Linked DNA regions of Homo sapiens: all the other regions are reported to be linked to region 2. The links are microRNA targets in miRTarBase. Many come from high-throughput screens and were not tested one by one. Region 2 holds a microRNA gene; each other region holds the end of a gene's coding sequence.
What was found. The annotated mature microRNA hsa-miR-548g-5p reads UGCAAAAGUAAUUGCAGUUUUUG and lies in region 2 at 1,979-2,001, shown strand. An mRNA with a match to its seed (bases 2 to 7 or 8) in the 3' UTR can be bound and repressed. Matches are read on the target gene's strand: a 7mer-m8 pairs with bases 2 to 8, a 7mer-A1 pairs with bases 2 to 7 and ends in A, and an 8mer does both.

Region 1: the mRNA of RNF111 is a reported target of hsa-miR-548g-5p. Seed matches in the 3' UTR shown: 7mer-A1 at 2,567-2,573.
Region 3: miRTarBase lists POLI as a target of hsa-miR-548g-5p. Seed matches in the 3' UTR shown: 7mer-m8 at 2,038-2,044 and 7mer-A1 at 1,899-1,905.
Region 4: miRTarBase lists ZNF367 as a target of hsa-miR-548g-5p. Seed matches in the 3' UTR shown: 7mer-A1 at 2,438-2,444 and 8mer at 1,987-1,994.

What each region holds. Positions count from the first base shown.
Region 1 is chr15:59,094,522-59,097,709 of GRCh38, reverse strand. It overlaps RNF111 (ring finger protein 111), which reads right to left. Exons shown (of 14, transcript NM_017610.8): 14 at 291-2,927. The coding sequence ends at 2,810. Among named protein-coding and RNA genes, the nearest start is that of CCNB2, 9.0 kb to the left of the region's middle.
Region 2 is chr4:147,343,494-147,346,681 of GRCh38, reverse strand. It overlaps MIR548G (microRNA 548g), which reads left to right and starts at 1,965; the gene lies at 1,965-2,053.
Region 3 is chr18:54,294,241-54,297,428 of GRCh38, reverse strand. POLI (DNA polymerase iota) reads right to left here. Exons shown (of 10, transcript NM_007195.3): 10 at 1-3,188. The coding sequence ends at 2,962. Among named protein-coding and RNA genes, the nearest start is that of POLI, 26 kb to the right of the region's middle.
Region 4 is chr9:96,385,527-96,388,714 of GRCh38, forward strand. It overlaps ZNF367 (zinc finger protein 367), which reads right to left. Exons shown (of 5, transcript NM_153695.4): 5 at 415-2,933. The coding sequence ends at 2,711. Among named protein-coding and RNA genes, the nearest start is that of SLC35D2-HSD17B3, 3.4 kb to the left of the region's middle. RefSeq lists an enhancer at 3,137-3,188.

The DNA of each region.
Region 1 (3,188 bases), not on the chromosome of region 2:
GATGGGGTTTCACCATGTTAACGAGGATGGTCTCGATCTCCTGACCTCATGATCTGCCCACCTCAGCCTCCCAAAGTGCTGGGATTACAGGCGTGAACAAGTAACAGTTTTTAAAACAAAAGTAGTTTTCTCTAAGTCAACTGTTATGGTTCAAATGCTGAAGTGTGCTAGCAGCTAAAATAAAGTCACCAGAGTAAGAAAAACGTTTCAAATGATCAGTTTATCACAACTGTTATGGTTCAAATGCTGAAGTGTGCTAGCAGCTAAAAGAAAGTCACCAGAGTAAGAAAAACGTTTCAAACGATCAGTTTATCACAACTGTTATGGTTCAAATGCTGAAGTGTGCTAGCAGCTAAAAGAAAGTCACCAGAGTAAGAAAAATGTTTCAAATTATCAGTTTATCACTTGCATGTTAACAACAATAAAAATAAGGACTTGCTAACAAAAGAATTTTAGTTTTTATGTATTTGGACAGCTACCACTGAAATGTTCATTTTGACATATAAGATGCAGCAGGATATGGAAGACACCAAAACAAAGCACAAAAAGTCAAAATGTTCAAAGTCATTTTCTTCCTTACTTTCTTCATTACTTATCACATTTTTCGATAACTAATGGCAGTAGCTTAATAAGCTCCTATATTAACAATTCAGGTTTATGTCACAAATACTTTTATTAAATAAATTTCAAAGTAACAAAGCTTTGCCTACATTAAAAAAATCAGTAGCAATTATAAAACAAGTCAACAGGTAGTCGTGCATCTAAATCTGATGTAGTATTCAAAAATAGAGAAATCCACCTGTGCTTTACTTGTATCTGGGGGAACGTCAAGAGGACTCCATGACATACAGTTCTCCCCATCTTACACTTCTTCAGTCCCTTGGCACAGACCCGGGGTATTCCAGTGGCAAAGTAGTACATCCATTACAGGCTACTTACTTAAAGGAAGACAGGCTACTTGCTCTTTTCCCCAGTAAGATGGCAGACATAGGTCACTGACTCCTTCACTCTCCCCTGACCTTCTATAACCTCGGTTTAATCATAAGGTATGCTCTTTAAATCCATCGTCCATCTGCACACATACTATGTTGAAGCCTGTTAACATTGACAACTACTACAGTGTAACATTTACTAATATGAAGAAAAGGGCAAGTAGTCATAACTGAATGAATATAAATGTCAAATTATGCAAATGTCAATTTGAGTGAGATCACTATTGTTGAATTCCAAGATGTTTAATGTAAACTGTTTTTATAAAAACTAATTATGAAACACAAAGACAATAGAAATATAAGTTATTTATTAATCAATCCACTTACAAAGCAGGTGGCTTAATGCAAGCTTATTGACATCTTCACATATGATCCATGGGAACATGTCCTCCACATACAGACAGTGATATTACTGACTGGATGCATTTGCAATCTGGGGCATATTAAGCATATTTAAACAAATAAAATTAGGCTATCCTGTATATGAAAGTATCTTGATAATAATATGCATCCTGAAGTAGATTAAAACTTCCTCCAAAGGAGAAATGTTAGTATGTTAACTTAACTTTATATTCTATATTATGCAGTAAATCTTAACTATAGAAATTAAAAATTTTAAATCAGTGATCGACTCTTGGTAATGTATGAAGTGGGAGTATATAACCATAGCAACAGTAGGTTGACAGTATAATTTGTGCCTCACAGTATCTGCAGATTTACTGTTTTCAAGTTTAGAGAGAAATAAAACAAGAGACATGTAGATTCAGCTGACTTTATTTACCTTTAAACTAATAAAAATCCCTTAAAAGTGATCCTGGGACCTTTATAAGTTCTATGAATGCACAGATACCTGCCAGTGACTTAAATTCCAAATCTTGACTTAATGTGTCTACAAAATCAATGTAAGCAGATATCTTAACTTTTCGTGCTTAGCAGAAGACAACAAATTCTACATGTCTTTTTCAATTTCCCTAAAATTTTGTTAAATCTGCAAGTATGTACAATCTAGCTAATTGAAATTAATATTTAGTGTTCATCAGAGCTGTTTCACAGCAGCAAAAACTGAATCAGGGAAATAAAATTCTAAATGATGTAGGAAAAAGATAAATGCAATCAGAACAGCAGTCTAAATGTATGATATCAATATTCAACTCTTATCTGCACTGTGTTGAAAGGAAAAGGATACACCAAGAAAATTTATACTGATCACTCTGGTGATGTGACTACCACCTGCATCTGATTTATATGGGTTGTATTCTGTTCCCAGTATTAAGGATGGTATTTAACTCAGAACTCCATATAGTAAATATACAGCAGCCATTTTGTCCTAATTAAGGAATGTCTTAATACACAATATTATCATTTTCTAGAGGATCTTTATACATTAAACTAAAGTACATGATTGATTAAATTAAAGGTTAGTAATGGATAAAAAATTCATAATTATCAAGGCTTGGTACTATGTAAAAAACAAAAAGACCACAAAATTCTACTTACTAAAGCAGCTAACCTTGCCTGCAAGTTTAGGGTCACAAGCCCATAATATGTGCAAAGAAATGCAATACAAGGAACCATGCAAAAATACAGTAAAATGATACAGAAAAATGTCAAATCTAGAAAAAAAAGCTTTTATAAATACATCAAAATCAACTGTATACATAAACTGTAGGTCTAGCATTAGTTGTACCATATAGCAGAGCCAGCACTCTAAGTTCAATGCTTCCAAATCTGCGCAGGTAAGTCATGCCATCTTTGGTTGACTGCAGTACCAGGAAGGATGGGAATGAGAGGGAGGGCAAGAGTTCTGAAACATGGTGTCAACTTTCACTTGGCAGCTGGGCCTCAATGTCCACTCTGCATATGGGGCACTTCTTATTGGTAATCAACCATTGGTCAACACACACTTGGTGGAAAAGGTGCATACATGGAAGACGTCTATTATTGGCAAGAAAACAAAAAGCAAAAATTAATTTTATGATAATTGTACGTAGTTAACAAATTATATATGTAATAATTCAATAATGTTTTGAAGGTACTAAGCATCTTCCTCTTCTATAAAAAACACATCGATTAAATTAGCACTCTGGGCAATATAATATATAAATGATCAAGATAATTAACTTTCAAAGCTACAGGACCAAATTATATAAAATCTTAAAAACTGTAAGAACACAAATTACACTGCCAATTATTCCA
Region 2 (3,188 bases):
GATTTGACACTTGATTTCTTTAACTTCACTATCCTCTGCTAGCCCCTTTGCCCACTACACTTAATATTCCCATTTTAATTTTTCATCTGCATTCCAGGCCCATCTATCTAACTATATACTTGACATGTATACTTGGATGTCTCACAAGCATCTCAAACTTAACCTGCCTACACACACACACACACACACACACACACACACACACACACACACACACCTTGTGCCTTTACCACCCACTTAATTGTTCAGAGCAGAATTAGTGGTTACTCGTTTCTTTTCTCTGTGAGGCCTGTCATTTTTATTTCAAAGAAAACCTTGAAGTCATCCCTTCTCCCCAGTTCCATTGCCAACACTCTAGTTCAAGTCACCATCATCACTAGGTTGGACTAATAGATTAGACATATTTTTTGGTCTCCCATTTCTATTTTTGCCACAGTCCACGTGAGTCTTATCTTCAATACCAGTGACAGCACGTCCTTCAATGTGCATGCTTTGTTGATCTGCATGCATTAAAAGAATAACATGCTTTTGTGAAAAGTTGGGGGGTGTTGTCCATCTGGCGAGAATACAGATCAGGCTTTGAAAATGCCTTAAGAAAATGCCTAACTTGCCAATTATACTTTTGGTATTCAAAATATATAGATATAGCATCTGTATTAGTTAGTTTTTATGCTGCTGATACATACCAGAGACTGGGTAATTTATATAGGAGAAAGGGTTTAATGGACTTACAGTTCCACATGGCTGGGGATGCCTCACAGTCATGGTGGAAGGCAAGGAGGAACAAGTCACATCATGCATGAATGGCAGCAGGCAAAGACAGAGAACTTGTGCAGAGAAAATCCCCCTTATAAAACCATCAGATCTGTGAGACTTATTCACTGTCTTGAGAACAGCACAGGAAAGACCTGCCCCCATGATTCAATGACCTCCTACTGGGTCCCTTCCACAACACGTGGGAATTCAAGATGAGATTTGAGTGGGGACACAGCCAAACCATAGCTTCTATATTGTTCCAACTCCAAATCAGAAGATTAGGCCTAATAATGCATAGATTGATGATGACAACTCAGGACTATCCTGGAAAATTCAGGCCAAAAAGTTAGGAACATATTGACTGCAATAGGAAATAGAAAATATGTGGGCTGTTGCTAGGAATTCTTTCCTTTAACTAAAATCTATCTTTTTAAAAGTCAGAAGAGCAAGTATTGTAAAAAAAAGTAAGTTTACACTTATTCTACCCAAGGGGTAAAAACATGTAGCTAAGTAAATTCTTCATCTCCCTTTTCTCAGAACTCCTTAAAGAACTTAGGGAAATGTGATGTGAGCAACCATAGTTCCCTAGATTACTCCACTTTTTTTCTGTTATTAAATAAGGAAATTTTATACCTTGAATCTTATATCAACAGTTGCTATATAAAAACCACCCTAAAGCTCAATGGCTTAAAACAATAATTTATTTAGCTTATGATTCTGGTGGTTACCAGTTTGAGTTGTTTGCAGCTGGGCAGTTCTTCTGCTGGCTTCTCCTGGGATCACTCATGCAGCTGTAGTTATCTGGTATCTCGACTGGAGTGAGATGGCCTAAAGAAGCTTTCTTCAACTGTCTGGCAGGTGGTGCTGACCATCAGCTGGGCTTCTCTCTGAGGGTGGTTGTTATCCTCAAGAGGGCTAGCATGTGCTTTTATCCATAAGAGGGCTAGCCTGGACTAGAGTGTGAGAGCAGAAGCTGCAAGGCCTCTTGAAGCCCAGGCTAGGAAGCCATACAAAGTCATTTCTATTGGCCAAAGCTGGCCACAGAGACAGCTCAGATGCAAGGGGAAGAGAACTATACTCTACCACTTGACAAGGGAGTGACAAAATCACATTACCAAGTGTTAGCACGCAGGGATGAAAAGAATTGGGGCCATCATTGCCAGCAATCTACACAACTTCATTACCCCTTTAGAGAAACACTTTCTCTGAGTTATTAGATTAGTGCAAAAGTAATTGCAGTTTTTGCATTACGTTCTATGGCAAAACTGTAATTACTTTTGTACCAACATAATACTTCATATATGTATATCTGTATGTATGGTTATGTACATGTGTGTATATAGATTACATGCTGTAACTCAGAAATATACATGTATGCACACATAGCATACTTGTGCATAAATAAATTATTTACTAATATGTAGGTATGCATTAGTGAACCTATAAACATTTGGACAGGAGTTGTTTGTGGTTGTCTATTATGTTGTCTAAATGCATTTGTAAAAGGATCCATGCAATAAATGCATAAATATGTCTTAGAAGATGTGTAACTCTTAAATAAATAATTCTTTTGTTCAGATAAACAATGCATAATTCATCACTGGCCCTTATTTTGGCATCTAGAAAGCTCAGAGTTAAATGTAATGTCATTGTCCATTCTTGATATTAGCTTAGATATAATTGTCTTTCACTTAGAATTAGTTTCCAATTGCAATTATTTACTTGCTTATTGTTTATGTGTATTTATTATAAGCTACTTCAATCATTTTCAAAATGAGATGAAATATAAGCAAAACATTAAAAAACATAACAATGTGTCTTTTGAAGTATCAGATGTATTTTCATTTTAGAGAATGATAATAATGCACTCTAGAAACTCTGGAGAACCAGTTCACTTTGGCAATGTTTTTAGTCTTAGCTTATGAAATAAAGATAGTTCAAATAGTGGAGAAGAGTGCCCCAGAGAACTACTGGGCTCAAATGCTTATAGTTTAATTCGTTCTATTTCTTCCACTTCACAATCAATCATCTAGAAAAGCCATGATGACTCATCCTTAAAAAAGAGTCATTGATTTTATATCTCCATTTTCAATCTGCTCTTCAATTCACCTCTTTCTCCTTCTAATTCAGAAAGGAGTCTTCATGGAGAAACAAATAATTAATTTGGTTATTGGCCAATATCAGGTTATTCTCTCACATGTGAGAGATATCTAAAAATAAAGCTACTTTTTTCACTTTCGGTTCTTGTCATTATTTTTAGTAAATTTCTGAATTATAAACTCCCAATTCATACCATGCATAATATTTTTCTTTGATTTTCCTTTTCTCTCCAAAAGAATCCAAATATTTCTCCACAACACAATTGCATTTGTCTTGCCCTTTTTAGACTAGAAGTGCAAAGAATGCAAATGGGTATGGAGGCTATACCATTT
Region 3 (3,188 bases), not on the chromosome of region 2:
TGTACCATATAAGGGAAATCTCCAGGCCTACACTCAAGACAGAAACCCCCTCTACACTATACACTCAAGAGAGAAACAGAAAAAATAAAAATAAAAATACCCTCTACATTCAAGACAGAAACAGGAAAAAAAAAAAACAACAACAAACTCGAGCTGAAACAAAAGCAAGAAAGCAGCAGAAAGCATCAAGCAAGAAGCAAGCTTGAAAGATGGGGTTTATCCCTGGAGGCAGATAGCTAACAGCATCTGCCTGTTAGTTTGGAATTGACCTGCAGAGACAAAACCTTCGGCTAGTAGTAAGGGTCAGGGAGCTTACACTTAAGACAAGGCATTCAATCAGGATCCACAAAGGTGAATAGAGTATGCCAAGGAGTTTGTACCACCTCACCCAGAGAAGCAACGAACTCAAATCATACTGAAGGAAAACATACACAATTTAGGCCCTCTGTCTTCTCGCAGATTAACACATACTCAAGGAAATAAGTCACAATGATATGCAATAATAACCTTAAATGTAGACTTATAAAGACTTAAAATATTGAAATTATCAAAAATATCATATATTTGACTTTTAAAAATTAGAAACAGACTTACAAGGGACTGTAATGAGTAAACGGGAAGTTAAAAAGAATCAAATGAAAAATATATTTATTGAAATTAAAACCATCATTGTTTTAAATAGCAGGTGAGATGCTACTGAAAAATGAACTAGTAAACAGAAAGATAGAGCTGATGAAATTACCCAAAATGCAGTAAAGAGAAACAAGAGGATGAAAAATATGAGAAATTAAGAGACATGAAGGATACAGTAAGAAAGTCTATCATTTGTATACAGTCCTAGAATAGAGAAGAAATATTTGAAGAGCTAGTGGTTGAGAATTTTACAGAACATGAATTAAAAGATACAGGAAGAAGCCAGTATATACTAAGAATAAAAATAAATTCGCACTTCCAAATAATACAGTAAACCTGCAAAGCACCAAAGAAAAAAGAGATAATCTTAAAAACAGAGAAAAAAGATCCCATAAAAAAGTTGATTCTGAGGCCCAAAGATGTTGAGACTAACTTAAAACCACAAAATAAGTAGCGTAACTGTGACATAGCCCGTACATTCTCAATCTATGAAATGTATTTTTAACTATTTTGCTTTCTCTTTTTAAGCTGGCCAAAACCATTTACTTTGTTTTCTTAGCCATTTTTTCTTAAGCCCCTTCTAGCTGTCCAAGGTCCTGAAATCATTACAAGGACTATAAAATGTTTTAATGATTTACAAAAAGTTATATACCCTTTTCATAAGTTTAATTACCTTACTGGAATACTCATGTAAAAAATACTATGTTCCTTGATTCAGAGTACTAAATATTTGCATGGTGAACAATTTCTGATGTTCTTGCTTCAAGTTACTGTTCCTGATAACCTCAAACTACCTATTTACAATCCTTCGTGTTAGCATATTTTCAAATTCCAAGGAATCCAAAACTAAGTTAAAATTTCAGAGCTGGGGCCAGGAGCAATGGCTCACACCTGTAATCCCAGCACTTTGGGAGGCCAAGGTGGAGGATCACCTGAGACCAGGAGTTCGAGACCAGCCTGGCCAATATGGTGAAATGTCATCTCTACTAAAAATACAAAAATTTGCTGGGTGTGGTAGGGCATGCGTGTAATCCCAGCTACTCAGGAGGCTGAGGCAGGAGAATTGCTTGAACCTGGGAGGCGGAGGTTGTAGTGAGCTGGGATTGCGCCACTGTACTCCACCCTGGGCGACAGAGTGAGACTCTGTCTCCAAAACAAAAAAAGAAAGAAAAGAAAATTTCAGACCTAGAAGAAAGTATTTTTAAGCTACTCTTTGGTTCATATTTGTGTACTTTATTTTTAAAGTCTCTTCTTTAGATTATATGTGCAAAAATTATAAACTTGAGACCAGGATACTCCCATATTGGTGCTGAGGGATACTTTAGTATATTCTATAAACATCCTCTATGTCTTGCAAATTATATAATACATTCTCAATCTTATATCCAATTTTTAGTTTAGCAGGCAAAAGAGGAAGGCAATAACAATGGGAGAAAGAGGACATCCACCAATTTAGTAATGGTCTATATTTGTGGTTGTTATGACAACCTAATATCATCTCCAAATGTAGGGAAGATACAAAAACATCTCAGTGCTTTTAGGCCCTTCAAACTAGCTAGAAAGAAATGGACTTCTTCCATTATCCAGTATGCTTATAGGCCCATCACCTTGCCTTTCTGGTGTCCATCTTTCCCTTAATTTACTTGCACGGAGAGTTCCTTCTACCACTGTTCTCTATAACATATACCCTCCTCTCACTTTAACTCCCCACCCTGGCCCTAGCCAAACCATTCATTCATTCAATGTTTATTGAACGGCCTTTGTGTGCTGTGTATTGTGGTAGATTCTTGGTGTATGAAGAAGCATTAATTGAATATAAATTGCTTTGGTATTTTAAAAGTCAACATACTAAATGTAATGTAGTACTTTAGTCAAAACTATCTATATTTTTAATAGGTTAGTTGGCAGTAGGATTTGCTATTCAGCCTAAGAGGCTGAATTTGAGATATTCCACATTTCACAGGAAAAAAAAAAAAAAAATGTGTCCTTTACCATATCATTGCAACGATTTGGCTATTTTTTATATATAAACATATACATCTCCCCACCAATTCATGAAAAATATTCTATGTTGACCATGATATTCTTTTTATTGAAAAGTAATATAAAATGGCTTTAGACATAAAAGATAGTATTTTACATTATTTCTTCTGTTATATTTTTACGCTTTGTGCCAGAATTTACTTCTTGCAACTATTCTTGCTTTATCTGGAACAGTTTACTCCGTTATTGAATATCTATTAGTGTTTAATATAGAAGAGCTTAATAAACCGCTAATCCGAAAATAATGGTATTCCCTTGCTTTTCAGACCTTTTTGCTGAATATGCTTATTTATGTCCAATGTGGAAATCTGATCCTGCTCTCTTCCACTCTGCCAGCAGTTCCTTTTGTACTGCTTCTGGTAGTTCATAGAAAACTTGAGGATCAATGTCAGAAGGGAAAGTAATTTTCTCATCAACAGAATCTGGCTCTCTATTTTCTGTAAGTCCTTCATGAGAGTCTGTTGCTACTGTTTGCTTATGGCTATCTGTAGTGTGGTTTCTGGAGAAAAGTT
Region 4 (3,188 bases), not on the chromosome of region 2:
GACTCTTAGAAAAGTACACAGGCTTTAAATGGATTCTTGAGGAGCTGACCCCAGAGACAACCCATCCTAAATGTAAGTGAAATGAAATCCCTTTTCCTTATTACCCTAATTTAAGGCCTGGAAATGGGGTGGCAATAGTTCAATACTTATCCACAGCAGTATATTTTTAACACTGTAGTAATGAACCCGATGAGGAAGTTAAATATCTATAACCTTAAAAGCCATAATTAAAGTAAGAAAAAGCAATCCACACTGTACTTACAACTACGCAAACATGTACTGAAATAATACTGATGGCTGAACATAAGGCTGTAGGTGATGTTTCTATCTTTTAAATTTTTTTATATCATGGTTATTATATTTTCGATAGGAAAACAAATGATAAAGGCTTTAAGAATGACCGTGTACTTTAAATTTTAAATTAAAATAAATTTTTATTCAAAGCATCTTTTAAAATTACAGCATGTTTATTCTTATGCTGTTAACTCTGCCAAACTACAACTTAGCCATATGAAGCATAAAACACTTCAAAAATTTGAATGTAAACCATTTTTTAAAACAAAAAGCAGTCTTAACACACCTCAAATTTTAGATACCAATGTATTTTTCCAAGTATATAGCTTATATCAAAAAGAACATTTTAAATGTTTCTAAATAGTTGTGATAATTTCTTAAACTGTTGCAATTATACAAATAAAAAATGTTTATGAAAAAACTATTAGAGTTGACAAAAGCTGACTGGAGAAACAAGGAAAAACCCTTACTTTTGAAGGCCTTAAATGTTATCATCTGTGAATTGGCAAATATTTGTATTTGAAAAATTCTTACTACCCTTCCTTCTTTAGTTAAGTTGATCAAAGTTCAAATTTCCCAAGACTGATGAGTGTTGTTTTTAGTTCATTAAATCACATATTTGAGAGCAAAAATTCTAGAGGAAATGCTGAAACATAAACCAAGATAATTCAGATGCTATAGTCTCTCTTACCAGCTTATAAGTGCTCCAAATTAAAATTCTATATACCACATTACAAAAAAATTCTTAGACCATTACAAATATAAATTCTCTTATTACAAAAAAATCCCTAAAGATTTGTAATTTACTGTACAGAGGAATTACATTTTTAAAGTATGTCCTCATCATACACATTATTCGTAACTATCGTATCTTCTTTCATACTTTTTCTCCTCTTCAAGACATTTACATGCCTCCCCTTCCCCGTGGCTACATATTTTAAACTATCTGTGTACTATGACACATTGGGATTTTTGGATAAAGAAGCCTACTTTGTAATGTTTAAACTACATCTGTAGGAACGTCTTCAACTCAAAAAAGCTAAAAAGGCACTGAAGAGCCCATATTTCCCTCTATTACTCTGAGTTTTACTCCAATTAAGCGATCTGTAAGTTACCATGCTATGCATGTCATTTAGTTCTGTTTAGAACAAAAGCCAAAATGATGGAAGTTTTGCCTACATAAAGGAGGTGGTCTGCTCAGCTCTTGATTTTTCTGTTCATGCTTCAGTACATAAAGTGGTGTTTAATAACTTTATTTGGAAAAATGGCTTCAAACCACCACACAAGTTAACACACTTGCAGTTAAAACTATTTCAGAAGCCTACTTATTTGAGTAGCTAATATTTTCTGCAGTGTTTAACTGATAGCTAAATTTAGTGAACACAAAATAGCTTGGCATGTTACTCTGAAGTAAAGCAAGAAGGTGGCTTTATGCACTGAAAATATAAATATGGAGGCTTCCATTTGCTAATAATTCTAAACAAGCAGTACAATTAAAATGTAGTGTTTGCTAACAAAAGATCTAAAACATTTCACTACAAAACAACCCTGCAGGTGTCCCTTTAGTAAAAATCCAAGTGCCAAATCTCATTACAGGGCCCTTAATATGTATTTTTAAAATTACCAATTACTATGTTACCTAGACTTTGCAAGATTAATCACTCAATTTCAGCAAATGAGAAATATGAAATGTGCAAAAGTTCCCAAGTTAACATGCTAGGGATGACAAGTGCTTTTCAAACTTAAACATTATACTGAGTTGTAAAGCCCCAGATAGAATAAGACTGATTTTGCTCCAATTTCAAAAATTCTGAACTATTGTGCATCTTACCAAGAGCCTCAAATATCTATTTTCTTCTAAGTCCATTACTTAGAACATCTTCCAAAATAGCCTCCCATTTCTCTAGCCTTAGTGGGCACAGTATTTTGCAATTAAAATTATCTATCTTACATATTTTATACTTTCTTGCTTGCTTCAGTGTTTACAGTATTGTTAAACATACTAATATATATTGTTAAAAATGATCTTATAAATAATCTGTTTTAATCTTCTTTGGCTATTTGTACCATTCTGTTTTTCAAACAAGTGTCTTATTCAGAAAGTGCTTCCTGTGAGAACTGCTTCCAATGAATGCATTAAACTTGCAAAATCTAGCTTCCCACAATATGTAGTTTTCTACCCTGTACTGTGCAGTCCATATTTACAAAATATTTTAAACTTTACGATGAATTCATTTCCATATTAAAAAAGTGCAGTTCTCTCTCACCCCATATTCTGGGGCAATAACATTCTTCATAAATTTCTACAGAATAGCAGCCTATGATAAGCAAATAAGGTGCTTAGCTTATGCCCAAGGATCTACTTTTTAAGTATGCTGGGCAGTACTTTTGTACAGTGGAAGAGTCAGTGTCCAAGCTACTGTCGGAGTGGCGCCCCAGTCAGGTTGGCAAGCTCTATGAGCGCGAGGGCTCCATGCAGGCGCTCCCGCTGCTCCTGCAGCCGGCGCTGGGCCCCTCTCTTCTCGTCGTCCTCTTCATCAGACTGAAGGTATTCCAGAGGGTCCTGCTGCTCCTGATCAGCCTTCTGAACCAGCTTGCCTTTCAAAGTGGGGGTGCGCTGCTCTCTCATTTCCCAATACCTATGTGAAATGCAGCAACATTAGTTACATGGCAGACATGAAATTTCCAAATGTTTACTTTTCTTTTAAAAAGTTCCATACCACAATATTACTTTTATGTGGTTCAGTTTATAAAGTTATAAAGTGATTTAACATAAATTTCCTATTTATAGAGGAAAGAAACTGAAGTTCAACGAGGTTAAGAGACGTGCTCAGGTTTCCACAATAAACCTGGCAGTTCTAGATCTTCTACTCACTCTCAAATCACGTTTTTGC